7 separate regions of the Homo sapiens genome follow, and all the other regions are linked to region 5. Evidence: fine-mapped expression QTL. A gene starts in region 5. Each other region holds a variant in brackets. All regions are shown on one strand. Distances are from middle to middle. Region 1 has its middle 14 kb from the start of FAM157D. Region 2 overlaps LOC105375114 (a long non-coding RNA gene). Region 3 overlaps LOC105375113 (a long non-coding RNA gene). Region 4 overlaps LOC105375113 (a long non-coding RNA gene). Region 5 holds the start of FAM20C (FAM20C golgi associated secretory pathway kinase). Region 6 has its middle 25 kb from the start of FAM157D. Region 7 has its middle 43 kb from the start of LINC03015.

What was found. PIP is the estimated chance that this variant, and not a neighbour inherited with it, causes the effect.
Region 1: its variant is fine-mapped to the expression of FAM20C in whole blood (INTERVAL, PIP above 0.99).
Region 2: its variant is fine-mapped to the expression of FAM20C in whole blood (TOPMed, PIP above 0.99).
Region 3: its variant is fine-mapped to the expression of FAM20C in whole blood (TOPMed, PIP above 0.99).
Region 4: its variant is fine-mapped to the expression of FAM20C in whole blood (TOPMed, PIP above 0.99).
Region 6: its variant is fine-mapped to the expression of FAM20C in whole blood (INTERVAL, PIP above 0.99).
Region 7: its variant is fine-mapped to the expression of FAM20C in whole blood (TOPMed, PIP above 0.99).

The regions. Positions count from the first base shown.
Region 1 is chr7:47,513-51,856 of GRCh38, forward strand. No RefSeq gene overlaps it. Among named protein-coding and RNA genes, the nearest start is that of FAM157D, 14 kb to the left of the region's middle. The variant TA/T (reference allele first, on the strand shown) is at 2,340.
Region 2 is chr7:113,297-117,640 of GRCh38, forward strand. LOC105375114 (a long non-coding RNA gene) reads right to left here. Exons shown (of 3, transcript XR_926959.3): 3 at 1-2,601. Among named protein-coding and RNA genes, the nearest start is that of LINC03015, 34 kb to the right of the region's middle. The variant C/T (reference allele first, on the strand shown) is at 2,105.
Region 3 is chr7:85,795-90,138 of GRCh38, forward strand. All of the region lies in intron 1 of LOC105375113 (a long non-coding RNA gene), which reads right to left. Among named protein-coding and RNA genes, the nearest start is that of FAM157D, 52 kb to the left of the region's middle. RefSeq lists enhancers at 1-20, 745-1,468, 3,749-4,344. The variant C/T (reference allele first, on the strand shown) is at 2,543.
Region 4 is chr7:80,698-85,041 of GRCh38, forward strand. The region is part of intron 1 of LOC105375113 (a long non-coding RNA gene); the gene reads right to left. It overlaps LOC101929756 (a long non-coding RNA gene), which reads left to right. Exons shown (of 3, transcript NR_187733.1): 2 at 1-597; 3 at 2,218-2,652. Among named protein-coding and RNA genes, the nearest start is that of FAM157D, 47 kb to the left of the region's middle. RefSeq lists enhancers at 833-1,605, 1,606-2,376, 3,670-4,344. The variant G/A (reference allele first, on the strand shown) is at 2,174.
Region 5 is chr7:190,507-194,850 of GRCh38, forward strand. FAM20C (FAM20C golgi associated secretory pathway kinase) reads left to right here and starts at 2,065. Exons shown (of 10, transcript NM_020223.4): 1 at 2,065-3,298. The coding sequence starts at 2,694.
Region 6 is chr7:58,034-62,377 of GRCh38, forward strand. No RefSeq gene overlaps it. Among named protein-coding and RNA genes, the nearest start is that of FAM157D, 25 kb to the left of the region's middle. The variant A/G (reference allele first, on the strand shown) is at 2,028.
Region 7 is chr7:104,555-108,898 of GRCh38, forward strand. No RefSeq gene overlaps it. Among named protein-coding and RNA genes, the nearest start is that of LINC03015, 43 kb to the right of the region's middle. RefSeq lists an enhancer at 4,120-4,344. The variant T/A (reference allele first, on the strand shown) is at 1,573.

The DNA of each region.
Region 1 (4,344 bases), 140 kb before region 5:
GCAAGGCTGGTTCAATATACGCAAATCAATAAATGTAATCCAGCATATAAACAGAGCCAAAGACAAAAACCACATGATTATCTCAATAGATGCAGAAAAGGCCTTTGACAAAATTCAACAACCCTTCATGCTAAAAACTCTCAATAAATTAGGTATTGATGGGACGTATTTCAAAATAATAAGAGCTATCTATGACAAACCCACAGCCAATATCATACTGAATGGGCAAAAACTGGAAGCATTCCCTTTGAAAACTGGCACAAGACAGGGATGCCCTCTCTCACCACTCCTATTCAACATAGTGTTGGAAGTTCTGGCCAGGGCAATTAGGCAGGAGAAGGAAATAAAGGGTATTCAATTAGGAAAAGAGGAAGTCAAATTGTCCCTGTTTGCAGATGACATGATTGTATATCTAGAAAACCCCATTGTCTCAGCTCAAAATCTCCTTAAGCTGATAAGCAACTTCAGCAAAGTCTCAGGATACAAAATCAATGTGCAAAAATCACAAGCATTCCTATACACCAACAACAGACAAACAGAGAGCCAAATCATGAGTGAACTCCCATTCACAATTGCTTCAAAGAGAATAAAATACCTAGGAATCCAACTTACAAGGGATGTGAAGGACCTCTTCAAGGAGAACTACAAACCACTGCTCAAGGAAATAAAAGAGGATACAAACAAATGGAAGAACATTCCATGCTCATGGGTAGGAAGAATCAATATCATGAAAATGGCCATACTGCCCAAGGTAATTTATAGATTCAATGCCATCCCCATCAAGCTACCAATGACTTTCTTCACACAATTGGAAAAAACTACTTTAAAGTTCATATGGAACCAAAAAAGAGCCTGCATCGCCACGTCAATCCTAAGCCAAAAGAACAAAGCTGGAGGCATCACACTACCTGACTTCAAACTATACTACAAGGCTACAGTAACCAAAACAGCATGGTACTGGTACCAAAACAGAGATATAGATCAATGGAACAGAACAGAGCCCTCAGAAATAACGCTGCATATCTACAACTATCTGATCTTTGACAAACCTGAGAAAAACAAGCAATGGGGAAAGGATTCCCTGTTTAACAAATGGTGCTGGGAAAACTGGCTAGCCATATGTAGAAAGCTGAAACTGGATCCCTTCCTTACACCTTATACAAAAATCAATTCAAGATGGATTAAAGACTTAAACGTTAGACCTAAAACCATAAAAACCCTAGAAGAAAACCTAGGCATTACCGTTCAGGACATAGGCATGGGCAAGGACTTCATGTCTAAAACCCCAAAAGCAATGGCAACAAAAGCCAAAATTGACCAATGGGATCTAATTAAACTAAAGAGCTTCTGCACAGCAAAAGAAACTACCATCAGAGTGAACAGGCAACCTACAACATGGGAGAAAATTTTTGCAACCTACTCATCTGTCAAAGGGCTAATATCCAGAATCTACAATGAACTCAAACAAATTTACAAGAAAAAAACAAACAACCGCATCAAAAAGTGGGCAAAGGATATGAACAGACACTTCTCAAAAGAAGACATTTATGCAGCCAAAAAACACATGAAAAAATGCTCACCATCACTGGCCATCAGAGAAATGCAAATCAAAACCACAATGAGATACCATCTCACACCAGTTAGAATGGCGATCATTAAAAAGTCAGGAAACAACAGGTGCTGGAGAGGATGTGGAGAAATAGGAACACTTTTACACTGTTGGTGGGACTGTAAACTAGTTCAACCATTGTGGAAGTCAGTGTGGCGATTCCTCAGGGATCTAGAACTAGAAATACCATTTGACCCAGCCATCCCATTACTGGGTATATACCCAAAGGACTATAAATCATGCTGCTATAAAGACACATGCACACGTATGTTTACTGCAGCACTATTCACAATAGCAAAGACTTGGAACCAACCCAAATGTCCAACAATGATAGACTGGATTAAGAAAATGTGGCACATATACACCATGGAATACTATGCAGCCATAAAAAATGATGAGTTCATGTCCTTTGTAGGGACATGGATGAAATTGGAAATCATCATTCTCAGTAAACTATCGCAAGAACAAAAAACCAAACACCTCATGTTCTCACTCATAGGTGGGAATTGAACAATGAAAACACATAGAAACAGGAAGGGGAACATCACACCCTGGGGACTGTTGTGGGGTGGGGGGAGGGGGGAAGGATAGCACTGGGAGACATACCTAATGCTAAATGACGAGTTAATGGGTGCAGCACACCAGCATGGCACATGTATACGTATGTAACAAACCTGCACAATGTGCACATGTACCCTAAAACTTAAAGTATAATAATTAAAAAAAAAAT[TA/T]AAAAAAAAAAAAGAAATATCATCTCACCCCAGTTGTGATGGCGTTCATCAAAAAGACAAAAAATAACCAAGGGAACTCTTGACACTGTTGGTGGGAATGTAAACCAGTACAGCTACTGTGGAAAGCAGTGTGGAGGTTCCTCACAGAACTACAAACAGAACTGAGGTAGGAGGTGGGACTCAACTCCAGAGGTGGGGCTCGAACACCGGACCAGATTGAGGACTAGCTAAAACAGGGCTGGGGCGGAAGCAGCTTTCAATCAGACACACCCACCAGTGCCATGGAAGTTTATCGTTGCCATGACGACACCGGGAGTTACCGCTCCTTTCCATGGCAATGACTCAATGACCCAAAAGTTACTATGCCTTCCTTAGAAATTTCTGCATAAACCGTCTTTAATCCGCGTGAAATTAAAAGTGGATTAAACATGACTGCAAAACTGCCCCGAGCTGCTCTTCTCTTCTTACAGGGCAGAGAGGGTAGCCCTGCTCTGCAGGAACCGTCTCAGAGCTGTAACATTTCTTCTTTATTAATAAAGCTGTTTTTGGCCGGGCACAGTGGCTCACGCCTGTCATCCCAGCACTTTGGGAGGCTGAGGTGGGCGGATCACGAGGTGGGAAATTCAAAACCAGCCTGGCCAAAATGTTGAAACCCCGTCTCTACTAAAAATACAAAAATTAGGTGGGCGTCGTGGTGCGTGCCTGTAATCCCAGCTACTTGGGAGGCTGAGGCAGGAGAATCTCTTCAACCCAGGAGGCGGAGGTTATAATGAGCCGAGATCGCTCCACTGCACTCCAGCCTGGGTGACAGAGCAAGATTCCGTCTCTAAATAAATAAAGCTGTTTTCTTCTTCCTTTGGCTTGCCCTTGAATTCTTTCCTGGGCAAAGGCAAGAACCCTTGCAGACTAAACTCCACCTTGGGGCTCACCTGCCCCACATCAGAACTACCATAAGATCCAGCAATCCCACTCCTGGACATTTATCCAAAGGAAAGGAATCGGTATATCAAACCAATATCTGCAACCCCATGTTTATTGACAATAGTCAAGACGTGGAATCAACCTAGGTGTCCAACAGCAGATGACTGGATAAAAAACGTGGTATATACACACAGTGGAATACTAGTCATCTGTAAAAAAAAATGAAGTCCTGTCATTCATGGCAAAACGGATGGAACTGGAGGACATTATGGTAAGTGAAATAAGCCAGGAACAGAAAGTTAAATACTGAATGTTCTCACTGACATGTGGAAACTTTAAAAAATGTTGCTCTCATAGAAGTAAAAAGTAGAACAGAGGATATTAGAGGCTGGGAAGGGGAGGGAGAGGGGACGGATAGGGAGAGATTTTTTAAAGGATATGGAATTACAGCTGGATGGGAAAAATAAGTCCTATGGTTCTTTGGCACTGTAGGGTGACTATAGTTAACTATAATTCATAGTTTCAGATAGCTAGGAGGAGAAATTATCGTGTTTGAGACGATGGATGTGTTCGCCACCCTGATCTAATCCTTGATTCATTCTATGTACTGCAGCATCCCTGTGAACCCCACGAATATGTGCCATATTGTGTCAATTAAAAAAATAATAAGAAGTAATTGAGAACCCTAATAAGTATGGTTTATCTATTAACATTTACCATGTTAAAGATGAAAATGGAGAACAATTTAAAATCTTAAGAGTATTAGTCTCTAGAGGGACAGGACTAATAGGATAGAAGTGTATATGAAAGGGAGTTTATTAAGTAGTATTGACTCACACGATCACAGGGTGAAGTCCCACAGTAGGCTGCAAGCCGAGGAACAAGGAAGCCAGTCTGAGTCCCAAAACCTCAAAAGTAGGGAAGCCGACAGTGCAGCCTTCAGTCTGGGGCCAAAGGCCCGAGAGCCCCTGGCAAACCACTGGTGTAAATCCAAGAGTCCAAAACTGAAGAACTTGGAGTCCGGTATTCAAGGGCAGGAGGCATCCAGCGTGGGAGAAAGATGAAGGCCGGAAGACTCAGCCA
Region 2 (4,344 bases), 77 kb before region 5:
ACCTGAAATCTTTGGTCCACTCATATTTAAATAAGTATTGACATGGTTATGTCTGGGTCTGTAATTTTATGCCTCGCTCTCTATACATACCCTCCAGTTCCCCCCTTTGTTTCTCATTTCTTAACTTTTTTTAGGGTTACGTGAATATTTACTGATTGATTTTTCTCCTCATTATATTTTGTGAATATACGTGAATATTTATTGATTGATCTTTCTCCTTATTAAGCTTTTTCAGCATGGTATCACCTCAGTAGTAGAGCATAATCAGTCCTAGACTAATTTAGGCCCCACCCAAAAAAGCTTAAAATCAAGCCTCAAATATATCAAATTGTTTCCAAGTAAAGTAACTTCATCCCTGAAAAGTTTTAAAATAATTTTAGGAGTGCAAAACTATCCAGGATCTAACAAGGAAAAGTACATGATGTCTAGCATACAGTAAAAAATCACCAAGTATGCAAAGAGGCAGGAAAACACATCATGTAATGAGGAATATCAACAAATTGAAACTAATTCACAAATGGCACAGATGAGGGCATTCCTAGACACAGATGAACTGTAGTTATTATCACTCTATTCCACATGATAACGTTAAGCAGAGATATGAAAAACATTAAAAAGTCCCAATTCTAACTTTTAGAGATGAAACCATTTCTGAGATAAAGAAAATTCACTGGATGAGATGATGAGATTAGACAGACACTACAAAAGGAAAGATTAATGAACTTAAAGGTATATAATAGAAACCATCCAAAGTGAAACACAGACAGAAAATAGACCCCTTCAAAAGGAGCAGAAAGCTAATTGGGGGGCAACTTCAATTGGCCTAAAATTCATACATTTAGAGTCCCAGAAAGAAAACAAAGAAAAAAAAACAGAAAAAAAAGGAGGACATAATGACTGAAATCTTTTGAAATTTGCTTTTTAAAAGCTACATATCCCAGTCCAAAAAGTATGAAGTACGAAGAAGGCACATCTTAACCAAACTGCTTAAACTGGGTAAGAACGAGACAATCTTAACAGCAGGCAGAAGAAAAGAGACGTGCTGGGTACAGAGGAACAAAGACAAGGATGACGACAGGTTTCTCCTTGAAAATGAGGCGAGCTAGAGGACAGTGGAACAAGCTCTGCAAAGTACTGCCGGGAAAAGCCTGTTGATTTGTGATTCTGTACCTGGCAACAAAGGTAGAAACAGGGTGAGATATCAAGTTTTTCAGACATATAAAAGCTAAAATATTAATCATACCAGCAGATAAGCACTAAGAGATATTAAAGAAAGTCCTTTGGACAAGAGGAAAATGACATTATAGGAGACCCGATAGAAGCACAGGAAGGAAAAGCATGTTTTGCTGGGTATAGAACATGTAGAGAAATAAAATATGTGCCCACAAGGACATGAAGGAGGGCAGGGAATGGAAGTGTGCTGCTGTAAGGTTATTAAACCATCATGATGTAGTGTAATATTATTTGAAGATAGATTATGATAAGTTGAAGGTGCACACTATAAACCCTAAAATGTATACACACACACGCACACATACATATGTACAGACAGAGTTATGGGGAATAAGCCAACAGAAGTGATTAAATGGGATGATTAAAAAATACCCAGTCCAGAAGAAGGCTGGCTAAGAGGAACAGGAAACAAAAAGTAGACAGGATAAATAAAATGCAAATAGCAAGATGGTGGTTTAAGTCCAACCATTATCAACAGTGATGGTAGATGAAAATGATCTATAACCATTGGTCTAATTCAGTGGCAGTTTGTCAGACTTAATAACAAAGCAAGACCCAACTAATTGCTGCCTACCCAAAACCCACTTTAAATATAAATTCACAAATACATGAAAACTAATGGGATTTTAAAAGATACACTGTACTAACACTAGTCAAAAAAAAAAAAAGCGGGAACAGCTATATTAATATTGAACAATGAACACAACCAGCATTATAAAGAAGGTCATTTTGTACCAGCCTTTAGCTGGGCTTCTTTTATCTGCTTTGAGTGTGTGCAGTTCAGGGCCAGTCGGAAACATGAGTAGAGTCCGCCAAGTTTCCCCTTCTGGACGCTCCCCCCCTCCACTGGCCACAGCTTCCCCAATTTCGT[C/T]CTGCTCCTGTTCCAGGCCATGAAGACTGTGGTCTTCCCTGAGGACCCCCAGCTCCTCATGCCCTAACTACATAGTGCTCAGGCTAACAGCCACGGTCAAAGAGAACGTGCTTCCTGCAACTCCTTTATCCCCCGTGTACACCCCAGGTCCGTCTTGCTGTTCACTCTCCAACGCCCACAAGCAGCCTGTTTGCATTGTGTACAGATTTTGAAGCTGTTTTCTGTAAGGGAGTGGGTTTGGTGTGATCTTACAAAATCCTTACAGGAAGCAGAACCAGCAATTACCCATCCACTTTTAGAACTGCCTTGTGCATGAACCTTTTGTCCTTTGAGTCACACTTGGAAAAAGTGTAGGCTTCGTCTGTTGCAAAGGTCATGGTGGCTTCACTCCAAGAAACTTGAGAAACAGTTATTGTTTTAAACAGGGCACAACTGCAGTGTCCTGAGGAGCCCTGCATGGCCATGGAGTTTGCTGGATGAGGGATATGGACGGGCTCCTGCAGCGAGAACAGAGACAGAGAGGGAGAGGGAGAGACAAAGAGGAGACAGAGAGGGAGAGGGAGAGACAAAGAGGAGACAGAGAGGGAGAGGGAGAGACAAAGAGGAGACAGAGATACAGGCAGAGAGAAGTGGGAGAGACAGAGGAGAGAGAATATCTGGCAAACACATTCCACTTTCGGATTCCTGCTCTGGACATGGAGGCCTGCTCTTCTCCATAAGCCCTCTCCCTTCCTTCAACGTCCTCGGGAAAAAGCGAAGCAGACCCTTTTCCCTCCCTCGCCCTCCTTGCCCTCCACAGGGGCTCTTTCCCATAACCTGCTGGCTGGTCTCTGTGGCTGAGTTCTGCCCATCCAGGAATGGACTCACCAGTGTCCCGGTCCAGCCCCATCTCCCCTCCACACTCAGGAGCTCCTCGGGTGAACTCGGTGCTAGCCAGGCACTCAGCACCAGGCTCGCAGGCTTCTTCCCAACACCTCCAGCCTGTGCCCCACCTGCACCCACACCCATCATTCTGCTCCGGGCTCTGCCCCGAGGCCCCCAGTTCCCTGAGCTCGCCCATTCTCTGGCCTTCACCCACACTATGGCCTCTGCCTGGCCTCCCTCAGCCGTGTGGACGCCTCCTCTCAGCATCTAGGATCTAGGCCCATCTCCACGCCGTCTCAAAGACGCTGGGCTGCTGCCCACTGTGAGACAGGAGCCCCCTCTCTGTTCCACACCACCCTTGACAGGCACTTACCAGGCCCGTCCACCTCATCTGGTGGGTCGTGTCCGTCCTTTCATCAGATAGCAAGTCCCTCAAGGCCCAACTCCCTGAGCCCCCATCCCCCTCTTTGTCTCTCCTCCAGGGATTAGTGTCACCCCTGATCCCACTCCGGCTTGGCCTCACCCACAACAGCTGGCACCCACCTTGGCCCTCCTGGCTGTGGCCTTGACCCCTGGTGTTCATCCTGGCTCAACCCCTGGCCCTGGTTCTCTTGGTGCCACCTAAACAGTCTACACTGTCTTGTGTTCACCTTTTCTTTAATTATTTGTTTAGCAGAGCAGAGCTGATTTTACAAATATAAATCCGCCGGGCGTGCTGGCTCACCCCTGTAATCCCAGCACTTCCGGAGGCCGAGATGGGTGGATCATGAGGTCAGGAGTTCGAGACCAGCCTGACCAACATGGTGAAACACTGTCTCTACTAAAATTACAAAAATTAGCCAGGCGTGGTGGCGCGCGCCTATAATCCCAGCTACTCAGGAGGCTGAGGCAGGAGAATCACTTGAATCCAGGAGGCGGAGGTTGCAGTGAGCTGAGATCACGCCATTGTACTCCAGCCTGGGCCACAGAGCAAGACTCTGTGTTAAAAAAAAAAAAATATATATATATATATATATATAATTGTTTGACCAAATGCAGTGATTTCTCCCAGTTTGAGAAATAACTCTTCTTTATAAAGTCATGTTTTGGTGAAGCAGGGCTGGGTAAACCTGCGCCACAATGGGTGGGAGCCCGCAGGAGACAGGCCCTCGTCCAGCAGTGTCCAGACAGCTGCATGGAGCAGAACACGCAGCCCTCACCCTAGAGCCCCGACTTGGGTCATGGGGGCTTAGAAAGAAAGAAAGGAAGAGACAAGACTGGATAAGAACCGGGTTTGGTCAAGGAAAGGAGGGGTGGACGTGCAAAGCCCTCCCGTGCGGGAGCCCTGGGACGGGGGCACCATCCCACAGCCCCCCGGCAGCCGCCGATCCCCCCGA
Region 3 (4,344 bases), 100 kb before region 5:
CACAGCCTGGAGATGGTGCGGTGTCCAGCCACTCTGCCGGGAGCTGGGCACTGTGTCTGACACACCGTTGCTGCTGGCCACTTCTAGTATTATTATTTCTGCTCTTTCCTTTCCTTCATCATATGCTCCTGGAAGGGGCTCAGAGGTGTCCCCACCTTGCCTGTCCTGGAAAGTTGTCTCAGAAGGCCCTGTCCCGGTGGAAAGTGCTGGTGGCTCTGGGTGTCTGGGCCTGAATGGTGGGGTGTGGTCCGCTTGGCTCTGAGCAGAGCGCCTCCATGACAACGCCACAGTGTGCAGGGAAATGGGGGTGGGTGTGGGGGAAGCTGGGGGGTACCCCCACTCCTACTACCTTGAGCTCAGACCACCCTCTGCAACTTCCCTGGGGACCCCCACGGCCACGGGCCCTGGTCCAGTGGTGGGCTCTGCTCAGCCCAAGGGCTTTTGGATTAGAGTGTTACCAGCTTCCTGAGCCCATCCCCACCGCCTGACCTCGGCCTTGGCCTCCTGAACTCATTCTCAGCCTCCTGAGCTCGTCCTCAGCCCCCTGAGCCCATCCTCATCCTCCTGAGCTCCTCCCCAGCCTCCTGAGCTCCTCCTCAGCCCCCTGAGCCTGTCCCCGGCTTCCTGAGCTCCTCCCCAGCATCCAGAGCCTGTCCCCAGGCCCTGAGCCCATCCTCAATCTCCTGAGCTCTTCTTCAGCCTCCTGAGCGGGTCCTCAGCCTCCTGAGCGAGTCCTCAGCCTCCCAAGCCTGTCCTCGGCCTTCTGAGCTCCTCCCTGCCCTCCTGACCTTGTTCCTGGCCTCCTAAGTTCATCTTAGCTCAAGGAGAAGGTCTTGGCTCCTCCTGCCTCCAGCAGCCCCTGGACTAGATGCCTAGTTTATCAGCAACCCAGATCTGAGCCTCCTATCTCAGACCCTGGACCATGGAGCTGTGGGCACCAGGGAAAGCTCTGGGGCCTGCTTGGCTTAGATAGGACCATCGGCCCCAGTGCTGAGCCTGGCTTAGGGCCACCCAGGGACGTGTGCTCTTCATCACTTCCTTCAAGCCAGTATCGCAGTGTCAGGAAGACCCGCTCTGTCCTGGTCACAGCGGTTCCCTCCTGCAGGACCCTCAGAGCCACAGGGCAGCAGAGAGACCTGAGCAGATGGTCCTGGTTCCACGGGGCTCCCCTATGTCACCCTGGACCCAGTAATTAGACTCTTCGGGTAGAAAGCTCCAAGGATCAGTGAGGTCTTGGGGGGTAAAGAGGCGCACACAATGATTGCTTTATCTCCCTCAAATATGCAGAAAATGAACTCCATCAGCACACACGGGCCGCAGGGCTTTGTGGGTCCCCAGGGCCCCCTCTGAATTACACTTTTGTTTTCCTGTGGGAGCAGCTTGTGCTCATTAGGGGAAGGCCAGGTGCCCGTTCATCTGGTCAGCCCCCATGCAGCCTGTTGGAGCAATGGGCAGGTGGCCAGGAGTTTGCCCCACATGTTTCTTTCTGAGTCTTTTGTCCAGCTGAGAACTTTCTACTTGATCTGTGCAGGATATCTGAGCAAGGCTGACCACTGCCCAGGCCCTGCATCTGGGCCCACAGAGGCCCCGAGCTCCACCCGTGGTGTCCCTTTTAGCTTAAAGCTGTGATCCCTCCCCTCTGCCATTGCTGGCAGATTTCCAGCCAAGGCCCAGACAAATTTCTATCAGGGGGTTTGAATGGGGTGTGCCTGGAGCAGAGTTTTGAGCAGGACCTGAGGAAGAACAGGGTCCCCCACAACACGGGTGCTGGGAGATGCTTCCTCTAGGCTGCATCCTGATGGGGCCCCACTGGGGATGCTCCAGCCAGCGGGCACTTCAAAAGGTCCCTCCGCTGCTCTGCTGAGGACAGTGATGATTCCTCAGCGTGACCACTCAGGTCCTTCCTTTTCCCCAGTGCCCAGAGCCATGTGCTGCCTGGGGATTCTGCTCTGTTACTTGGGACCCACCAGTGCCCATGGCAAGAGCTGCAGGCTCAGTGCAGCATCGGCCTTGGGACCTCGAGGGAGTGCTCAGCCACCCACCAGGTGACCCACCTGCCCCAGGGCCATCAGGCCACCAATGGTGGGGAGAGAAGGTGACAGAGGATGCAGGTGGCTGTCTGGGCCGTGTCTGCCTGGGGTGTGGAAGATGTCAGGGAACACAGGCCCCAGTCGGATGGAGACTCAGCTCCTAGTTGCTTTCGTGCTGATGGAGTGGTGGCCATGGACGGCACTGACACCCAGAACAGGATGTGTGGCCCGTGCCTGGGGCACACAGACCCCAGCATCTGAGCCCGCCTGTCGCTGGTGGGGGAGAGGGTACCGCAGGTGTCTAACGGGGGCAGAGGGTAGACAACAGCTCCCTCCAGAAGTCACTGCCCATCCAAGTCACGAAGCTTCCCATCAGTCCCCTGCTGCCATTATAACGGGCTTTGCTCAAAACAATGCCTTCGCCCTCTCCCAGCTCTGGAGGTGAGCGGTCTGGAACAGGCCTCACTGGGCTAAAACCAAGGTATCAGCCAGGCCTGGCCTCCTGGAGGCTC[C/T]AGCAGCGTCCCCTGTTCCACTCCTAGAGGCCCCCACGTTCAGCCAGTGTTCCTGGACCCTCCAGCGGCTGCCTTCCTAGTCACGTGGGCTCCCCCTGCCGTCAGATCCCTCTCGGGACATGTCATTGCCCCGGCCTCACTCAATACTGCAGGATGCTCTCCCCATCCCCAAGCCCTTAATTTATCCACATCTGCACAGATCCCAAGGATTCTGATGTGGACATCTCCAGGGCCATCAACCTCCTACCACAGCATTCCCTGGCCTCAAGGGCGGACCAGCTCAGCATTGGAAACGCCAGGGTCCGGGCCGGCCTCATGGCCTCCAGGCACCCTCTCCCATCCACTCTCCATCAGGCACCAGGCAAATCTCAATCCCCAAATCCCTCTGGCGCCATGGCCGTAAAGAGAAAACCCAGCCTGGGTGTGGCCCCCACCTCCGCGGCTGCAGCCCTGCCCTCCCCGAAGGCCGCTCCCCCTCCTGCTGCCGAGCCCAGGTCATGGCCTCAGCTCCAGCTTCTCACCGTTCCCAGGTTTTGCAAACTCTCTTGGGCCCTGTGTCTCACCTGCTTCTCCTAATTCTTACGTGGAGTCATGGAGGGTCCCCATATTGGGTTTTAGGGTTCAGAAGCAAACCCAACCCAGCAGGCTCCTCTCCTAGGAAGACCCCATCAGGGACCCCTCCCTTTCCACTGCTCTGTGAGCCTGCAGGGCCCAAGGTGGCCCTGATCTGACAGCATCTCTGTGTGGTAGGGAGGGAGCTGCGGGTGAGCAGCCAGTAGCACTCGTCTCACGCCCTCCCCAAGGCCATGTGTGTCTATGTCCACGTGTGTCTGTAGGTGTGAGCGTGTCTGCACATGTACATCTGGGTGTAGATATGTGTGTGTCCGTGTGTCTGTGTGTGTCTATGTCCCTGTGTGTCTGTCTGCATGTGTATATGCGTGTCTACATATGTGTCTCCATGTCAGTGTGTGTCTCTATGCATATGTACATGTGCTTCTGTGTGCATGTCCATGTGTTTCTATGTGTCTGTCTGCATGTGTCTAAGGCTCACAGGACAGAAGCCACAGCCCCACTTCTGTCAGGGCCATGGGGAGGTCAGTGTTCTGGAAAACACGTCCCCCAGGGGTCTCTGACTCACAGAACCACTTCCTCATGCCCTCTCTGCCCCCACAGTTGGGGAGCACAGGCGCCCACAGCTCAGACCCACAGCTGTGACTCACCCACCTGCTGGTCTCCAGCTGGGCCACTGCCCAGGAAGGGTAGCTGAGGACAGAGAAGGAGCCCACAAGCAGGCAGGGTCCCAGGCAGGGTCTCTCTGGGCCTGCACACAGCCTGCTGACTGGCCCTGGGCAGCCCTTTTCTCACAGGACAGGAGGCCTCCAAAACCCTTTGTGCCCAAGGCCCAAGAGCACTGGGAAAGGCCTGTGAGGCTGGGCGGCCACGCAGGCCTCTCACCCCCGGCCAGTGCTGGCCAACAAGTGAGCCAGATGGCATTTCACTGGGTCTTGATCTCCACATGTCCAAGTCTGCAAACACTGCTTCACATCTGCTTCTCCTGAGGGAGATGCCCCTTCATGTCTCGGGGTCTTTTTCTCATTCTTACTGATTTATAGAAATTCCTTACACATTCCTGAGGCCTACCCTTCGTTAGTTATGTCCCCGGTGAGTATCCTCTCATTTTTAGCTTCTCTTTCATTTTCTTTGAGGTTATTTTTGACCAATAGTTTTTTAAATGTACTCACATTTTATCAGACTCCTATTTTATAGCCAGGGCTTCTTACAATGTATTTAAGAAATCCTTC
Region 4 (4,344 bases), 110 kb before region 5:
ATGCTACAGGATCTCAGGGCAGCTGCACCCCGCAGGTTCAGAAGGGATGGGATTCTGTGTCCTTTTCCTTCTTGCTTCAGACCTTCACCTGGGGCTCTAACACCGAAAGTCTGTGCCAGACAGAGGCATCCACAGCGACAGGAGCCTGGGCCAGGGCGGCCATCCCTGCTGCAGAGACAAATGTCAGTGTCCATGGAATCAGTTCGGTGCGGTGAGCGGCAGGTCTGATATGAAAGCTACTCGCACTTCCCGTCTGGGCAAGAGCAGGAACTCGGCAGGCAGAGAGCTGGTGGAGCTTTCCATGGGAAAACCAGAACCTTCAAAGAGCCCGGCCTCCCTCTGATCAGCCCCTTCTTTCTGATCAGATGCATTATTGACGAGGCAGCCTCCTCCACCTGCCTCTCATCAGAGCAGCTCGTTTCCCACCGTGGTAATTTATACTTGTGATTTTGGCCTTGATCAATAAAGGCAACGGAGAAGACGCACCCGTTCATTTCCTACAGGAGGGGCGGAAACACACAGGCCTCTGTGCAGAGCTTTCCTGGGCTCTTCTGAAGGCAAGCAAACCCATCAAAGGGAAGATCTGCACGCTGAAAGGTCAGCAGTTCCCTTTTCCCCATGGGATTTGTGTTAGCAACTTTGCGAGTGGAAGATGCATTTGGAACTGCCAGTCCCTTACAGCCCTCACATGGGAGGTGCAATGTTCATCCTGTCACTATTTTAAAACTCGTCTCAGGGTTGGGAGTAACTGAAACCGTTTTGGGCTTAATTTTGCATGAGGACGTAGCAGAGCATGACAGAAGGGAAAAAGAGAAAATGCTGGCAAAGGAGAAATGGCCCTAAGAGGGAAGCCGGATCCCTAGCTGGGTCGGAGTAGATGAGCGGGGAATGAGGGGCTGGAGGATGCAGCTCCGAGCGTGCAGGGGTGGTGTGCTCTCGGGAGGGAGCTGCTGTGGAGCTACTAAGGAGGGAGGCTGAGGGGTGGGAGAAAGCCCAGGGCTGTAATCGTAGCCCCTGGAGCCTGATTTAAAAGACTGGAGGAGGCAAAACCTTTCCTGGGTGACATCCATCCAGGGCATGACCCTGCGGCCTCCGTGTCTGCTGTGGGCGAGGCTGTCCCTGCAGCCAGCCCTGCCCCCATCCCTTCCCTTCTAGGGATGTTGGAGTGTGGGGCAGCCCAGCTTCTGCCCACAGCACAGATGAGGAACTGAGGATGCAGGGGCCCGTGGGGGACGGCACACGGTCAGCCCAGAATTAGGACCTAAGGTTGGCCCTATGGGTTCCTGCAGCACAGACGTGCAGCATGTGCACCCACATGTACACACAATCAGGCATAGCCACAGAGAATCACACCCTCCCACGCACACCCACACCCACACACCCTCCCACAGGCACACGCGCACCCTCACACTCATGGTCTCGCCCTCCCACAGGCACACCTACACTCACCCACGCCTACAGGCACACAAGCACACACTCCTTTCCCCCCACAATCCCTGCACACCCGTGGGCACCTATGCTCTCGTGTGGTCTGGATCTGCCCTCTGTGTGCACAGCCTGTGCCTGGCCCAGCGTGAGTGACTCGTGGATGCTCTGCAGGTGAGACCTGAGGTGAGTGTCCTGGCACCGCCCGGGCCTGGCTATCGGGAAGCTCCGCCCAGACGGCCGCCTCCTCCCTGGCGCGGGCCTCTTCCCTAGGAGGAGCTCGTTAGCTTGTTTTTCCATCGGTATTCTTTGTCCCCAGTCACCCGGACCTGGGGCTGGGCACTGCCAGGGGCAAATGTGCCATGTGGAGAGGCCAAGCGGGGGACAGGGGCGGCTTGTCCGCCAGGTGGCACCGAGGCGGCTGCGTGTGGGGCAGTGTTCCCACTCTCGTCACCAGCCCGCACTTCCCGCTGCCTCTGAGTATTCTGTGGGGGCTGCCCCGGCTGCAGCCCCAGGTGTAGCCTGCTGGAAATCTCACGGTGTCCAGGCCCCATCCCTAACCGGCCCGGGGCATCCCTGATTTCGTGCTCACCGAGAGGGGCCTCCCTCGGCCTGCCCAGCTAAGAGCCTTGCAGGAGCCCTTCTCCAGCCTCACACTGCCAGCCCCTTTGAATTGCAGCACTCAGGTCCCCAGGAAAGGTGTTTTTATCCAGTTAGCTGTTTTTTATACTTATGAAAAAGCTCCGTC[G/A]CTTGGAGCAAAGCAGAGTTGATTTTCAGATGTGATTTCTGCAGGCAGAGCAATGTCTGGTTCCTGCTGTTTCTTCTGATGGGCGCGGCGGTGACTGAGGGTGTCCTGCGAGCCGTCGGTGAGCGCTCAGCTGTCCTGGTCTGCAAGTTCCTACTGACATCACAACCTGCTGCTTCTCTCTGTCCTTAAGGGTCAGAAGATGGAGAAAAGGTTCATGTTTCCACCCCTGTATTCTGTTAGGTTCGGGTTTTTGAGAGAGGCTTGTGGGGAAGGGGCCGTGTCCCCACTCCTTCCTTTCTTCTTGTACACATATTTACATCCACTGATTGAGTGATTTACAATCACTCAACATGATTGACGGAACTTCTGGCACTGCGGAAGCTGTGCTAAGGCCTGGGCATTCATGGGACATGGAGCGTGCAAGAGCTGAAGTTTTAATGACTTGCTTGCAGAAAAAGATCAAGTTTTACAACAGAAAATTATGGGGCATAATTTCTATTGTGGCAAGGGACCAGGGCCGTCTCCTGGAGGAAATCTGGAGAGAACATGCCACAGCCAGGCCGGCGTAGAGAGAGGCTCTGGCAGGGGCCCCTCCCAACCCACCCCTGCATGCGTGGGGCTTCTGCTCAGCAACAGGGGCGCAGCTCCACTTTCAAAGTGTGAGGGGCAGGGGCTCAGGTCTCGGATGCCTTCACCACCTGCCTGAGTCGGGCATCGGGCAGGGAGCGTGCGGGGGCCTCTGCCTCTGCTGGCCCAGATGATTCCCTGGCCCTCCTCAAGTGCAGCTCCCATTAAATAGATAGAGCCGGGCTCTGAGCCACGAATTGGGCCAAGCATCCCAAGGGGGTGGAACCGAGTCAGGAGTCAAGACCAGAGGCCAGGAACTGCCCACGCCCATGTTCCTTCCACAGGGCCAGCCTGTCCGGTGGCAACACTAATACCATCCCATGAAGCCTGTGAAAATTAAAGGGAATGGTGCATGTTTAGAGGCCACACACAGCAAGTAACCAATGAACACCCACCCTTCATGCTTGGTTTTCATCACTGGGCCAGCAGGGGCGGAGGCCCCAGCACTCTCCCTGCCTGATGCCCGACTCAGGCAGGTGGGCTTGAGAGCCCCTCCCGGGGCTCCAGGGCTCTGAAGGCATCCAACACCTGGGCCCCTGCCCCTCACATTTTGGAAGTGGAGCTGTGCCCGTGCTGCTGAGCGAAAGCCCCATCCAGCTCTCCGAGAACCAGACGAGGGGCAAGGGAGATGAAGTCTTCCTGGAAACTTGGACTCCAGCTGGTGTGGGGGTCAGAGCAGCAGGCTGAGCCTTCAGGGGGCCTCCGGCAGGCTCCCAAGGCTGCGCTGTGCGTCTCTTCCACCACACGCACTGGGGCATGAGGCCAAGGGCATCGTCTGCAGAGCGAGAGGGAAACTGGGGTGGCAGGGCTTGCGGGCGCAGGACAGCGCCAAGGGGCTTTCGTCTCCCAGCATTAGGACGACCTTGTCCTCTGCCCCTGTCTGGGGGCCGCTGGGTCCCTCCTCACAGGAGCGAGGCAGGCAGCTCTGGTGCAGGGCCGGCCAACAGGCCTCAGATCTGGAGTCACAGACCCAAGGACGAGGACAAGGGCCCCACACACCTCCAAGCAGGCCCTGAGGTACTGACGGGCAGGCAGGACCCTCTGTGACCCTTCCTCACTCCTCACCCAGAGAAGCCAGGAGAGCGGGATGCCGAGGGACTGGAACAGAGAAGGCCTCTTGCAGGGGCTCATGGACAGGAAAACAGAGGAGCCTGCCAGGGCCATGGCCACTGGCAGGACAAGTGCCCACTGGAGCCAAGGCCTGGGCAGGGGAGAGGTCTGCAGAGCAGAGCCCGGCCCTGGGTTCCCACAGAGGCGGCTCGCACAGTGGCTGATTTGCCACTCGTTCACTCAGTTTAGTGAGCAGCACGTGAAATGCTAAATCCGTGTGGGCTCAGGAGCAGCCTCAGATGAGGAGAATCCCACAGTTCGTCGGTGAAGCCCCCACCCCAAATCTCCCACAGTCCTGCTCATGCCCAGGGCGGCAGGTGTCCTTTCTAATGGGTGAGAGCCAGGAGCTGGGGGCTGCGTGCGCTGTGGCCCCTCACCCATGGGGGCCTTCCAGGACCCCAGCAGATGCCTGAAACCGGGGAGTGCCCGACCCT
Region 5 (4,344 bases):
GTGTCCTCAGACCACGGCGGGTGCTGTTGGGAAAACAGTGGCGGGGCAGGGAGGGGGGCGCTTCTGAAGGACCTGGCGAGGTAGAGGCCACTGTTCTAAGAGGCAACAGACGAGATGAACCAGGACCCTCTGCGAGGGAGGGAGGCGTCCAGGGGTGCACACGGGTCCAGATAGCTGCCGGGCTCCCAAAAACCACTCTGGGGGTGAGGATGGGAGGGGAGAGGAGTTGGGGGCAGGAGGCAAGTGAAAGTAAGTGCCCAGGGAACCTCCATGAGGCCCCCCACACCGGATAATAGTGTTCCATGGGGTCTGCTCAGCCCCATGTCTGCCCCAAGACACTAGCCACAGCTCTGCGTCGAGGTCCTGTAGACCACGGGAGAGATGGGGGGGCCAGGAGCCTATAGAACTCCAAGTCCAAGGGGACCCTTGCTGGGAGAACACAGGCCAAGACCTTCCTTCCTGCCACAGGCTTCTGTCCCTGCTGTCTGCTCCCCCAGGACTCCCCCCACACCCGGGATCTTCCTCCTCACCCTCCTTGGCCTCTCTCAGTGACCCTGTCTACACACAGATGTGCTGTCCATGTGAGTGGAAGGAAGGAAGGATGAGGTCCACTCACAGGGGTGAAGCTGTCTCCTGAGGGGGCAGCCCACCTCCAGGTCACACCGCCCCACCCAACACAGCCTCCAGTCCAGCTCCAGGTGGGCCGCACCCAGCCCTTCACTCACTTCAAATGGCCCAAGACGCATGGATTCCACTGGCCAGCCGGACTGGAACAACTTCTCCCCTTATAAGTATCTAGTGGGTGCCCACGGAATGCCAGGCAATGGGCCAGGCTCAGAGATGAGTGATTCCTCAGGAACAATGGGCTCAACGCCCTTAATTCACATCAGAGGAAACTGAGGCTCAGAGAGGGCGGAGAGGGCCCTGGTAACACAGCCAGCCGGTGAAAGTAAGAGGGGGGGCCCAGGCCCTGCTCCCGGCCCACCCGCCTGGGCTTGCTGGCGAGGCTGCTGGCCCAGGCAGTCTGGGCACTGTGGAAGCAGCCGGCTTGAGGCACAGGGGATGTGGCCTCCTCCCACACACTTACCTCCCTGACTACATCTTAGGCTGACATCCAGATTAACTCATATTCCCTACAGGGAGCTGCACGGCCAGAAGCTGCTGGTTGCAGAAGCCACCAGCTGGTTGTACAAGCACCGCTCCCCTGGTTGTGGGTGACAGATGAGATGCACTCACGTGAACACACATGCATGTGCACACACACATGCACACAGACGCACACACAAACACACACAGGCATACACACGCACACGCACATCCACACACACACATGCGCACACACACGCACACGCCTGCACTCACACACCCCCGTCGGCCCCAAGCAGGAAGGCGCCCCCGGCACACCAGCCCCTCTCAGCGCCCCCAGCGGGCCCGGCGCCTGGAGGGTTAAGGCGGGCGCGTCCCGCGGGTGGGCGGGGGGGGGGGGACGGGACCGGTGCCGGGAGCTCCGCTGCCCTGGCGTCCCCTGGGTCCAGGCCCAGTCGCTCCTTGGGCCTCTCTCGCGGGGCCGCCTCCGCCTCCTCCTTGCCGAGACGGGCGTGGGGCACGGGGTCGCCGCCCGGCGGGGAGCTCATCCGGCGGCGCAGACGCCCCGCGGCTCCGGGGAGGGACTTGGCCTGGGCCCCGGCCCCGCGCTCCTCTGGGGAGGAGCCGAGAGGCTGCAGCTGGCGGCGGCGGCCCCGGGCGGGAGGGGGTCCCAGGAAGCGGCCAGGCCGGAGCCCCCCACTCGGCCGCAGCTGCTGGCCTGGCCAGAACCGAGCGCGCCCTCCCGGTCTCCGCCGCTTCCCTCTGCAAACCGCGGGCAGGAGGAGCCCTCTCCTTAGCGGGCCCGGAGCTCAGAGGCGTCGCGGGGCGCGGCCGAGGGGAGGAGGAAGGAGAGCGGGAGCGCAGCCGGCCCGGGCCCAGCCGTGACTCGTGGGGCGGCGGCTCCGCCAATCTGTGGGCGCTGACGCGGGGGGCGGCTCCGCGGCGCTCGATATCTGCCCGCCCGGGACGCGGGGCGCCGAGAGGCTCGGCCAGGCGGGAGCTGCGCTCGGGGCGGCCGCTGCACCTGCCCGGGACCCCGCCGGCCGCTCCCCGCGCCCACCCCTTCCGCCCTTCGCCCCCCCCTTCCCCCCAGCCCCGGTCTCCCGGGCGCGGCGTGAGAGCAGAGCCCGGCCCGGAGGAGCCGCCCCTTCCCCGCCCGCCCGCCCGGCGCCTGGAGAGGAGCGCGCTGAGGATCGGGACGCCTGCGGCCGCCGCCACCGCCCAGGCCCGTCGCGCCCCGGCCGGGATGGACCCACACGCCCGATGAGCCCCGCGCCGGCGGCTGCGAGCGCCGAGCCTCCCCCTGCTGCGGCCCCAGCCGCCCCCCGCGCGCCCGGCTCCGCGGACCAGGACCCCTGGGCTCCCCGGCTGAGGGCGCGGCCGCTCCGGAGAGGCCGAGCGGGGACGGGCCCGAGATGGCGCGGGGACCCAGCGCTCCGGCGGCGGGCGCCCTGCACGCGGCCCGGGCCCGGGGACAGCCCCGGAGCTGGTAGCCGCCCGGCACCGATGGACCTTGACCCGCGAGGCGGCGCCGCGCTCGTGCCCAGCTGCAGCTAGAGGGGCGCGCGGGCAGAACGCGCTCCAGGCCCGGGCCGGCCCGCGCGGCCATGAAGATGATGCTGGTGCGCCGGTTCCGCGTGCTCATCCTGATGGTGTTCCTGGTGGCCTGCGCGCTGCACATCGCCCTGGACCTGCTGCCCAGGCTGGAGCGACGCGGCGCGCGGCCCTCGGGGGAGCCCGGCTGTTCGTGCGCGCAGCCCGCCGCCGAGGTGGCCGCGCCCGGCTGGGCCCAGGTTCGGGGCCGCCCCGGGGAGCCCCCGGCCGCCTCCTCCGCCGCCGGCGACGCGGGCTGGCCCAACAAGCACACGCTCCGCATCCTGCAGGACTTCAGCTCCGACCCCTCCTCCAACCTCTCGTCCCACTCGCTGGAGAAACTGCCGCCCGCGGCCGAGCCGGCCGAGCGCGCCTTGCGGGGGCGGGATCCCGGCGCCCTAAGACCCCACGACCCCGCGCACCGGCCGCTGCTGCGAGACCCCGGCCCGCGTCGGTCCGAGTCGCCCCCCGGCCCCGGCGGAGACGCCTCCCTCCTGGCCAGGCTGTTCGAGCACCCGCTTTACCGGGTGGCGGTTCCGCCGCTCACGGAGGAGGACGTCCTGTTCAATGTGAACAGCGACACCAGGCTCAGCCCCAAAGCGGCGGAGAACCCGGACTGGTGAGTGGGGGCTGGCAGGTGCCCACCCCCAAGGGAGCCGTGAGCCCAAGGCATGGTGTAGAGAGGTTCAGGGGCCCCAGAGGGCCGCCCCCCATGGAAGAGGCCGGGCAGGGAGTGTGGTGCGGGAGGAGGCAGCCGCCTACCTCAGGGCGCTGCCTTTGTCTCCAGAATAACCTCCTCCTTGGGAGGGGCTGCCGGCTGGTCCGGGAGCTGTGCCCTGTGGCTGCTGGTGAGGAAGCCAGACCCCGCGCCCTTTAGAAGCGAGTCCTGACCAGCCGTGGTCACCAGCTTGGGAAATGGGGTCAGGCAATGAATGAATGAGTTGGTGAGGGAAGGAGCCAGGCTGCCGCTGGGCTTTCAGACACTTGGCGAGGGTGCTCTGGGTGGGCACCTTGGAGAAGGTCTGGATGTGCCTATTGAGTCTTTTAAACCCAGTGGCTGGAGCAGAATTATCAGAGGGGCTTGCTGGCAGCCGTGAGGTGCAACAAGGCGGCCCAGCCAGCAAGGGCGGTGGGTGTGCTGGCTGCAAAGAGATGATGGCTCGATAAAGGGCGAGAAGCCACGGCAGGAACCTCTCTTTAAACTGTCCTGGCTAAGCCCTTTCCCCACCCCCCGGCCCCTCCCTCCGCCACACAGATCAAAACAAGCAGATGCTACACCGAAGCAGTGGAACATTAACCACGACAAGGCCAGAATAAGTAACTACCTGCCGAAGGTTACCCCAGCAGCAGAGGGGGAGACCAGCCTTCCAAAAGATCTGGTTGAAAGTCCCTTCTTCCCTGAAATGTCCAGGCCCAGTGTCTTCTGTCTAAACACACTGGCTGTTTGGAAGCCTCTGAGCCTTGCCTGCTGGTCAGGTTCAAGGAAATGCTTGGAAATTTGAGAACCAGAGCATTGGCCTGGGCTGTGGCTCTCGGCAGGGAGAGACGGCCGCCCAGAGCAGCGAGTGGCCAGGAAGTGTATCCTAGCCCCCCACCCCGCCCCCGTGTCCACCGCAGGACAGAGCTTCGGCAGAAAGCACCTCAGCTTTAGGTGAATTCGAGCTA
Region 6 (4,344 bases), 130 kb before region 5:
GAAAACGGGTTCAGAGCCACAGGCTGAGGCCTGGGGGACTTCACAGACAACTAGGACAGTTCTGACATTTGCTTCCCTCTTGACCACCTGCTTTGCCTGCTTTGCAAGGATGGACAGAGAACAGCACTAACATGCATGAAAATGAACCACACCCTGTGGTGGTGTCCCACTTAGCTGGTGGGGTCTACGGTGAGAGAATCGGCATGTATGTGTCCTGGGCCAGCAGCTGTCCTCAGGATGGACACTGAGGTCAGGTCCAGAGCAACTAATTGATGTCAGATCTGTGAGTTGCCTCTGATCAGCCAATCTGAGTAGCATGTTTATTAGAACATTTTTGCATTTGGGGGAACCAGAAGTGAGCTGATCTGCATATAGGCCAGCCTTTCTGCATAGGGCACAGCGTATGTGCAGGCAGGCTAGCTTATGTACAAACAGCCCACTATGTGTGACGTGGAACAGTCACTCTGCAAATAGAGCAGCTGTCCCCACATGGGCTACTACTTAGACCAAGCTTCTCCAACCTGCAGTCTGCGGGCTGCGTGAAGCCAGACACAGCTTCGAATGGGACCCAACACAAAATCGTCACATTTCTTAAAACTATGAGAATTTCTTCACGATTTTTTTAGCTCATCATCAGCTATCATTAGTGTTAATGTATTTTATGTGTGGCTAAAGACACTTCTTCTTCCAATGTGGCTCAGGGAAGCCACAAGATTGGACACCCCTGATCTAGATGCAAGATGCTATTTTGGAAGATGGTGTTAGTGATAATTATTTCAATCCCTGGCAGGGGGGCCCTGAACAAGCTACTCCTCTCAGAGTTCCTGCAGTCTTCCTGGGGGTGGCACCTTCAGCTTGTTCTGTGCCCATCAGCGTTATCAGCCCAGTGCTTGGGCACCTGGAAGGCATCTCCTGTTCATTCCCGGCTGCCAGGGTGACAGAGGCTTGTGTTTTGCGATGTACCGATGGTTTATTTTAATTAGGTATGATAAGATGACAAACATGGAGACAGCTGTCTTGAAAGGAGAGTTTATTACTTAAGGTTCCCAAGAGGAGGGGGCATGGCATACCAGGCAAGGCCATGTGGGAAAGCACCAGCTCAGCCGGGAGGCAGCAGGAGTGAGGGGTGAGCAGGCCCAGAGCCCTTATCGTGGGAAGGAGCTGGGGAGGTGTGGTGACCAGCTGAGCAGGCCTAGGGCTGGCGTTTCAGCAATTTTGGAGGGCTCTGGGCTCTAGTTGTCTGGTTCCTGGCCCTGGGTGATTCAGGGTAGGGAAATACTGGCCTGGGAGTGCAGGAGCCCATGTAGGAGGTGGCTGGAGCCAAGGGCTTGGATTGGGCGGTTTGCACATGAAAGGCACACTCACCAGGGAGTCCCCAGGAATTAGCTACCCCTGGGAGAGGCAGTTCCTTCTCTGGTCAGTGAGGCCCCAGGATGTCAGAGCATCATAAAATACAGAAATTAAAAAAATAGGATTAATACAACTTGGAGGAAGCATATGGGGTTTTGGGGATGCCGTTCAGACCTCACACTGGTCCAAGCCTTCTGCCTTCCTGGGACTTCTCCACCTCTCCACGCGGTGACAATGGGCAACAGAGACTGGGCCAGGCGGCACGCTTCTTCCCCCGCCCCGCTGACCCCACCAGAAAACACCATTTGCCGTATGATCTCTGGGCAGTGGAGGTCGTACTGTGGGAGGGGCAGCTCTGTTCTTGAGCTCCTTCCACTGGGAGCCCTCAGGCTCAGAGCCCACGTCCCTCCCACCTCCCATCTCCATACCTTCTGTCATTATTTAAATGAGAGTATTATGCAAATGTAATGCAAAAATCGAGTTCAACAAATCTGTTCTTACCCACACAGGGGCAGCTAATTTATGGAGCTCAGACTCAGTCTAGGTCCCTTCTTCGGGGTAATGCTGTTTTTGGAACCCCAGACAAAGTAACAGCAACTCCAAGATTTTCACAGAAGCTTCCTTTGATGACTCCAAGCTCCCCCAGACCCGGTGGAAACGCAGACTCCTTGGCTAAC[A/G]CTGCCATGGGAGTAGAACCCACCACAAGCCCCCTACACTCCACATGGGGAGAGCTGGGACCCATGCCCTACTGGCTAGAAAGTGGTCCATCCTGAGGGACCTGAGTCAACAAGGATGCCGGGGCTGAGCCGGGCCCTGACGGGCACCCGGGACCTCATGGGGGAGCATCTGAGCAGGGCTGGGATGAATGAGGAGACACCAGCAAAGAGGATGTTGAGAACAATTCCTGGGGAGAAAATTGTGGTCTCATTACCTCATTCGAAGTGGCCTGATCTCAAGGAAGCAGGGAGCAGAGAAACATAATCGGAACATCTCTGTGCATCAGGTTTTCGTACTGACCGTGAAGCACCAAGTGGAAGCAAGCCTCGCGCTGGGAGGACAAGGCTCTCGGCGTTTCCTTGTGGATTTATTTGCTCAGCATGAGTGCCCTGTCAAGCCACCCAAGGGACAGAGCTTCTGGCTCAGGGACCACGGTTGGCTCAGCACAGGCAGCCTCTGGAGATGAGAGGGAACCAGTGGATACCCTTCTATCCCTGCTGGCCACGAGGGGTGGCAGTGTCCCAGGTAGAGGTACTTAATAAAGAGGTTGCTGGTTTTATTTTTCTCTAAATTATTTTTCGAGGAGCTTTTCCATAAGCCCAGGCCCTGGGTTCACACCATCACTGGGGCAGAAGCCTCTTCCCTGCCTTGTCTGATGGGGTCTTTACACCTTCCTCGGTCACTGATGCCAGGTGCTATTGTTCCTGCTCAGCCAATGTCTGGACTGAGTCCCGAGCCTCATTCCATGGGCAGTGGCTCTGTCTCCAGGTGGGGCACATGGAGGCCAAGTCCCAGGGCAGGGCCCACGGTGGGCCTGGTCTTACGGGTGGTGAGTCAGCTGGGCCGGCTGAGAGAGAAGAAAATGAGCGGAACCAGGAGCAAGACAGGTGGAGGATGGGCAGAAGACAGGGTGGCCTCCTCAGGTGGAGAGATCTTGAGGGCCATTTTTCATGCCACCTCCCTCCACAAATCTGCCCACGGCTCCCGATAGCCACGCTCTCCAGCACCTGCCCTTTCAAACTCCAGGGCAAGCTCCAGATATCACCACACTGACCATCTAAAGGGAGCTTGGTTAGCAGTGAATACGTGCCCGTGACCCTGTGGGCTCGGGAGACCCCCATGGGGCTTTCCTGCTCCCTTGGGTAGGGGAGGCTCACGCCTGTGGGTCGGCACCAGTCTGCTTCTCATGTCCCTCCTCACCTCCCAGGCCCCTGGCCCCGGACAGGATAGGTAGAGGCATTTCCTCTTTTCTGCCTTGACTCACTTCACAGAGAGGGGCCTCCCCCACGTGCCTGGCCCCACTGCCAACCCACCACGTGCCGGCCTTGGAGTATGGGGGAATGTGCTTTGCTGCCATTTCTGAACCTGAGGGAGCTTATCTTTCTTCTGAGAGCCCTGTTCTAGGTAGGCAAGCTCCTGTATACTTTACTGCCATTTGTTCAAGTTCCAATTATGGAAGGGACCCTTAGTGAAAAGAGCTTGGTGCTGAGGTGTAATTCTCTGAGCACACTGGGCCTGAGAGCAGCCTTGCAATGACAGGGTTTTCCGGCTCGAAGGAGCCGTCCCCGAGTCCTTTCCACTGGTCTTGGAAGGGAAGAGTCTGTGTCTCGGCGACAGAGGGTGTCTTTGTGGATAAATGAGGCCTCTTTGTGCATGGCCTGCCCAACAGAGGCCACAGGCCGGACACATGCTGACCTTGGACACCTTCCATCTCTGGGGTCAGGGCTGGGACCAGAGGAGATGCCGAGGCCAAGACTAAAGCCCCCCAAAGGTCTTCTGGGCAACTCCCCGTTCAGGGCTAAAAGTCTCCCTGTGATCCCTCCCAGAGGGTTCTGCTTGCACCCCCAGGGCCAGGCACAGCCCCCACACTCTCCTCCTCCCCACACCAGTTCCTCTGCCACCCTCATGGGGCCTGACCACTCCCTGCAGCTTGGGGAGTCCAAAGCACCCCCTTCCCTGAGGGACAGGAGGGGCCCCTGAGCCAGGGCCCTCTAACAGCCATCCCGGGGCCTGGGGTCTGTGGAGGGGTCACGTCCTTGCTCCTTCCTTTCTGTGTTCCCACTTCTACGAGGAGAGGGGTGGAGACTCTTTCCAGCTCTCCAGGTCTACCTCCACACAGCCTTGGAGGGGCGTCCTGGGGGTAGATTACGAACAGGATGGGGCGCTGCTGTCTTTGTGGAAGCCCAGGCCTCCTCCTCGAAGGCCCTATGATCCCGTGTCTGACTTGTAGGTGTCCGTGTCCCCTTCCCCACCAGGCTGTTCACTCCTCCAGGGTAC
Region 7 (4,344 bases), 86 kb before region 5:
GAACACAAGGTTGATTTGATATCCAAAAGCCAATCAATGTAATACAGCATATTAATGGATTCATACAAAACCACTCTTAGAAGAAAACATAGGAGGAAATCCTTATGGCCTGAGTTTGGCAATGATTTCTTCAATATGGCACCAAAAGCACAAGTGATAAAAGAAAAGAGAGATAAATGACACTTCACTAAAATTAAAAACTTCTGTGCTACAACCAATGCCATTAAGAAAGTGCAAAGATAACCCACATAAAAGGAGAAAATATTAGGAAATCTTCTAGAGTAATCCCCTCTTATCTGCAGGCAATACATCTCAAGGCCCCCAGTAGATGGCTGAGACCACAGAGATTACCAAACACTGTATATACTGTTTTTTCCCATATATGTATACCTGTGATAAAGTTTAATTTATAAATTAGGCACAGGAAGAGATTATCAAGGATAACTATAATAAAATTGAACAATGATAAAAATATGCCGTAATAAGACTTATGTGAATGTGACCTCTCTATCGCTCTCTCTCTCAATACCTTAATGTACTGTACTCACCCCTCTAAATACCTTATTGTACTGTTCTCACCCCTCTTTGTTGTCATCATGTGAGATGACGGAATTGCCTCCGGGAGGAGGTGAGGTGAGGTGAGGTGAATCACGCAGGCATTGTGACATTGTCTTAGGATGCTGTTGACCTTCCGATGAATGATCGGAAGGAGGATCACCAAGCCATGATGAGCAATGGCTGGATGTCAGGAGCAGACAGTGTAACGACTAAGGAAGGAGCAGTCTATACAGTGTGGATACAGTGGACAAAGGGATGGTTCACAGCTGGGAGGGATAGCTTGGGCTGGAGCAAGGTCTCACTGTGCTACTCAGAACAATGCACAGTTCCATGTCGTATTTTCAAGCCATGGCTGACCACAGGTAACTGAAACTGTGGAAACCAGGACACCAGGTAAATGGGACCTGCTGTATCTGATAAGGGACTCATATCCAGAATATGTAAGGAACACTTAAAACTCAAATAAAATAAGGGTTATTAACCCCATTTTAAAATGGGCAAAGGATTTGAATAGGCACTTCTCAAAAGAAGATGTACGAATGGCCAGTAAGTGCAAGAAAAGATGCTCAACATCATTAGTTATTAGGAAGAAGCAAATCAAGACCACAGGGCGATGCTACCTCATACACTAGGAGGGTGATCCTCAAAAAGACAGAAAATAGTCTTGACAAGGACTTAAGAAACAGGAACCTTCTTTGGGAAAGAAAATAGTGCAGACAAAAACAATGAAAAGGCGCTGAAAATGAGTTCAACATAGAGTGACCACATGGCCCAGCAATCCCCCCCTAGGTGTGCGTCCCAGATAATTAAAACCATACATCCAGCCAGGCTAAGGGGCTCATGCCTGTAATCCCAGCACTTTTGGAGGCCGAGGCAGGCAGATCACGAGGTCAGGAGTTCGAGACCAGCCTGACCAACATGAAGAAACCCCATCTCTACTAAAAATACTAAATTATCTGGGCGTGATGGCACATGCCTGCAGTCCCAGCTACTCGGGAGGCTGAGGCAGAAGAA[T/A]CGCTTGAACCCAGGAGGCAGGGGTTGCAGTGAGCCGAAATCGCACCACTGCATTCCAGCCTGGGCGACAGAGCGAGACTGTCTCAAAACAAACAAACAAACAACAAAAAAGTACATCCAAATAAAAACTTGAACACAAACGTTTGTAGCAGCACCACTCATAAAGCCAAACAATGGAAACAGCCCCGATACACGTGACTGGCGAATGGCTACAGAAGATGTGGTGTATCCGTACAACAGGATGTTATTTGGCCATGAAAAAGAATGAAGTACTTATAAAAAAAAAGAAAAAGAAAAAAGAAATGAAGTGCTGACACAGGCTACAAGGTGGATGAGCCTGAAAACATTATGCGAAGTGAAAGAAGCCAGTCGCAAAAGACCACGCACTATATGTTTACATTTTGAGAAACGTGCAGAACCCATAGATACAGAAAGAGGATTTGTGGTTCTTTAGGGCTGGGGGTGGGGGCAGGGCTGGTGGCTGAGAGTAGCTAAAGGGTGTGGAGTTTCTTTTTGAGGTGGTGAAAATTTTCTAAAATTGACTGTAGTAATGGCTGTAGAACTCTGTGAATATACTGAAAACCATTGTACACTTTAAATGGGTGAATTGCATGGTATGTGAATTATAACCCAGTAAAGCTGTTTAAAAAATAGTGGGGGGCGGGTGGAGGGAATGAAGAGAAGGTGGTTAATGGGTACGAATAAACGGTTTGGTAGGAGGGGTGAGTTCTAGTGTTGATAACACAGTGAGGGGATTATAGTTAACAACAACATACTGTATATTTTGAAATAGCGAGAAGAAAAGATTTGAAATGTTCCCAACATGAAGAAAGGATAGACGTTCGAGGTGATGAACGTCCTAAATACCCCAATTCCATCATTACACATGGCATGCGCGTATCCAAATATCTCATGCACCCCATAAATATGTAAAATGTTATGCATCAATAAACAATTAAAGGTATAAGCGTTGCAGAGTGTCTTCCTTCCAAATAATACAGTATGAAAAGGGAAAAAGAGCAACTTTACAGTGGAGAAAACTGGAAACCTCTGCCTCAGCCACATCGCCGAGGTTGACATCACCGGTGACAAGTCACGCAGACAGCAAGGACGTTGGTGTGATGCTGTGGGAAGGTCACTTTCCATCCTCCCCACAACCCGTGACCCCAAACTAATCACAGGAAAAAGATCAGACAAGTCCCAAATGAGGGACATTCCACAAAATACCCAACCAGTCCTCCTCAAAACTGTCAGGATCACTAAAAATAAGGAAAGTCTGAGAATCTGTCACAGCTGCGAGGGCCCTAAGGAGACATGAGGGCCAACTGTAACATCATACTTTGGATTCTGAGGTAGAAAATGGATATTAAGGGAAAACTGAGGGAATGTGAATAAAGTATGGACTTTAGTTCCTACTACTGTATCGACATGGGCTAATTCACTGTGACAAAGGTACAGTATAATGTGACAGGGTAAGAGTAGGGGAACCTGGGTGTGGAGTATACAGGAACTCTGTGCTATCATCACAATTTTTCTTTATATCTAACAATGTTCTAAAATGAAGTTTATTTTAAAAATAAAAAATAAAGACAGGGGTCCTTGATATCAATAAACCCCATGAAAATACATTCATTAATAATCAGGGAAGCACCTCCCCCAGCACATGTGCATATGACACCCATGCACACACTCAAGCACACGTGCACATGACACCCAGGCACACACTCAACCCAAGCACATGTGCACATGCACACCTGTGCACACACACTCAACCCAAGCATGCATGCATGTGTGCATCTGTGCCCACAGTCAACCCAAACACGTGTGCACCTTACACCCATGACACACCCAACCTGAGCACATGCACACATGCTCAACACAAGCACGTGCACACATGCATACCCATGCACACACAATGCAAGCACATGCACTTCTGTGCACACACATGATGCAAACACATATGCATTGCATGCCCATGCCCATGCAGTCAACCCAAACACGTGTGCACATGCACATACTCAACCTGAGCACATGCACCCATGTACACATGTGCACACACACTCAACCCAAGCACACATGCACATGATACCCATGCACACACACTATGCAAGCACTTCTGCACATATGTGCATGTACACATGCACTCCATCCAAGCACATGTGCACATAGACACCCATGCATGCTCAACTAGAGCACATAAGCAGATACATACATGTGCACACACACACAACCCAGGTATGCATGCACATGCACGTCCATCTGCACACTCAACCCAAGCATGTGCACACACACACACTTGTACACACACACTCAACCCAAGCACATGTGCAGTTGCACGAATGTGCATACACAACCCAAGCACACACTCAACCCAAGCACAGCTCACCAGGGACAGAGGCCCAGGAACAGACTCTGACAAAACAATGAAGAGAATCCAAAAAGCAATTACACTGCCAAGTATTACGCAAACACAATTATTGGAATTGCTAGTCAAAAACGGTTAATAGAATAATTAAGATAGATTGACCTAAAAGCTGATTTTAAATTAACCTGACATGTGCATATACTATCTAAATAATACTCTTTCCTCTGATTTAGTCTCTCATTAAAATCAGATTTCATTGGGAGAAATTATACATTTGCACCATCATTGGGAAGAAGAAGCCATGTTCACTCACCCACTGATGAAAATAGGAGATTATTAGAGGAAGTAAAATGGGAATATATTTTCCTGGCCTTCCCTGGCACAGTGTGATCTGTCCCTGTAATAAA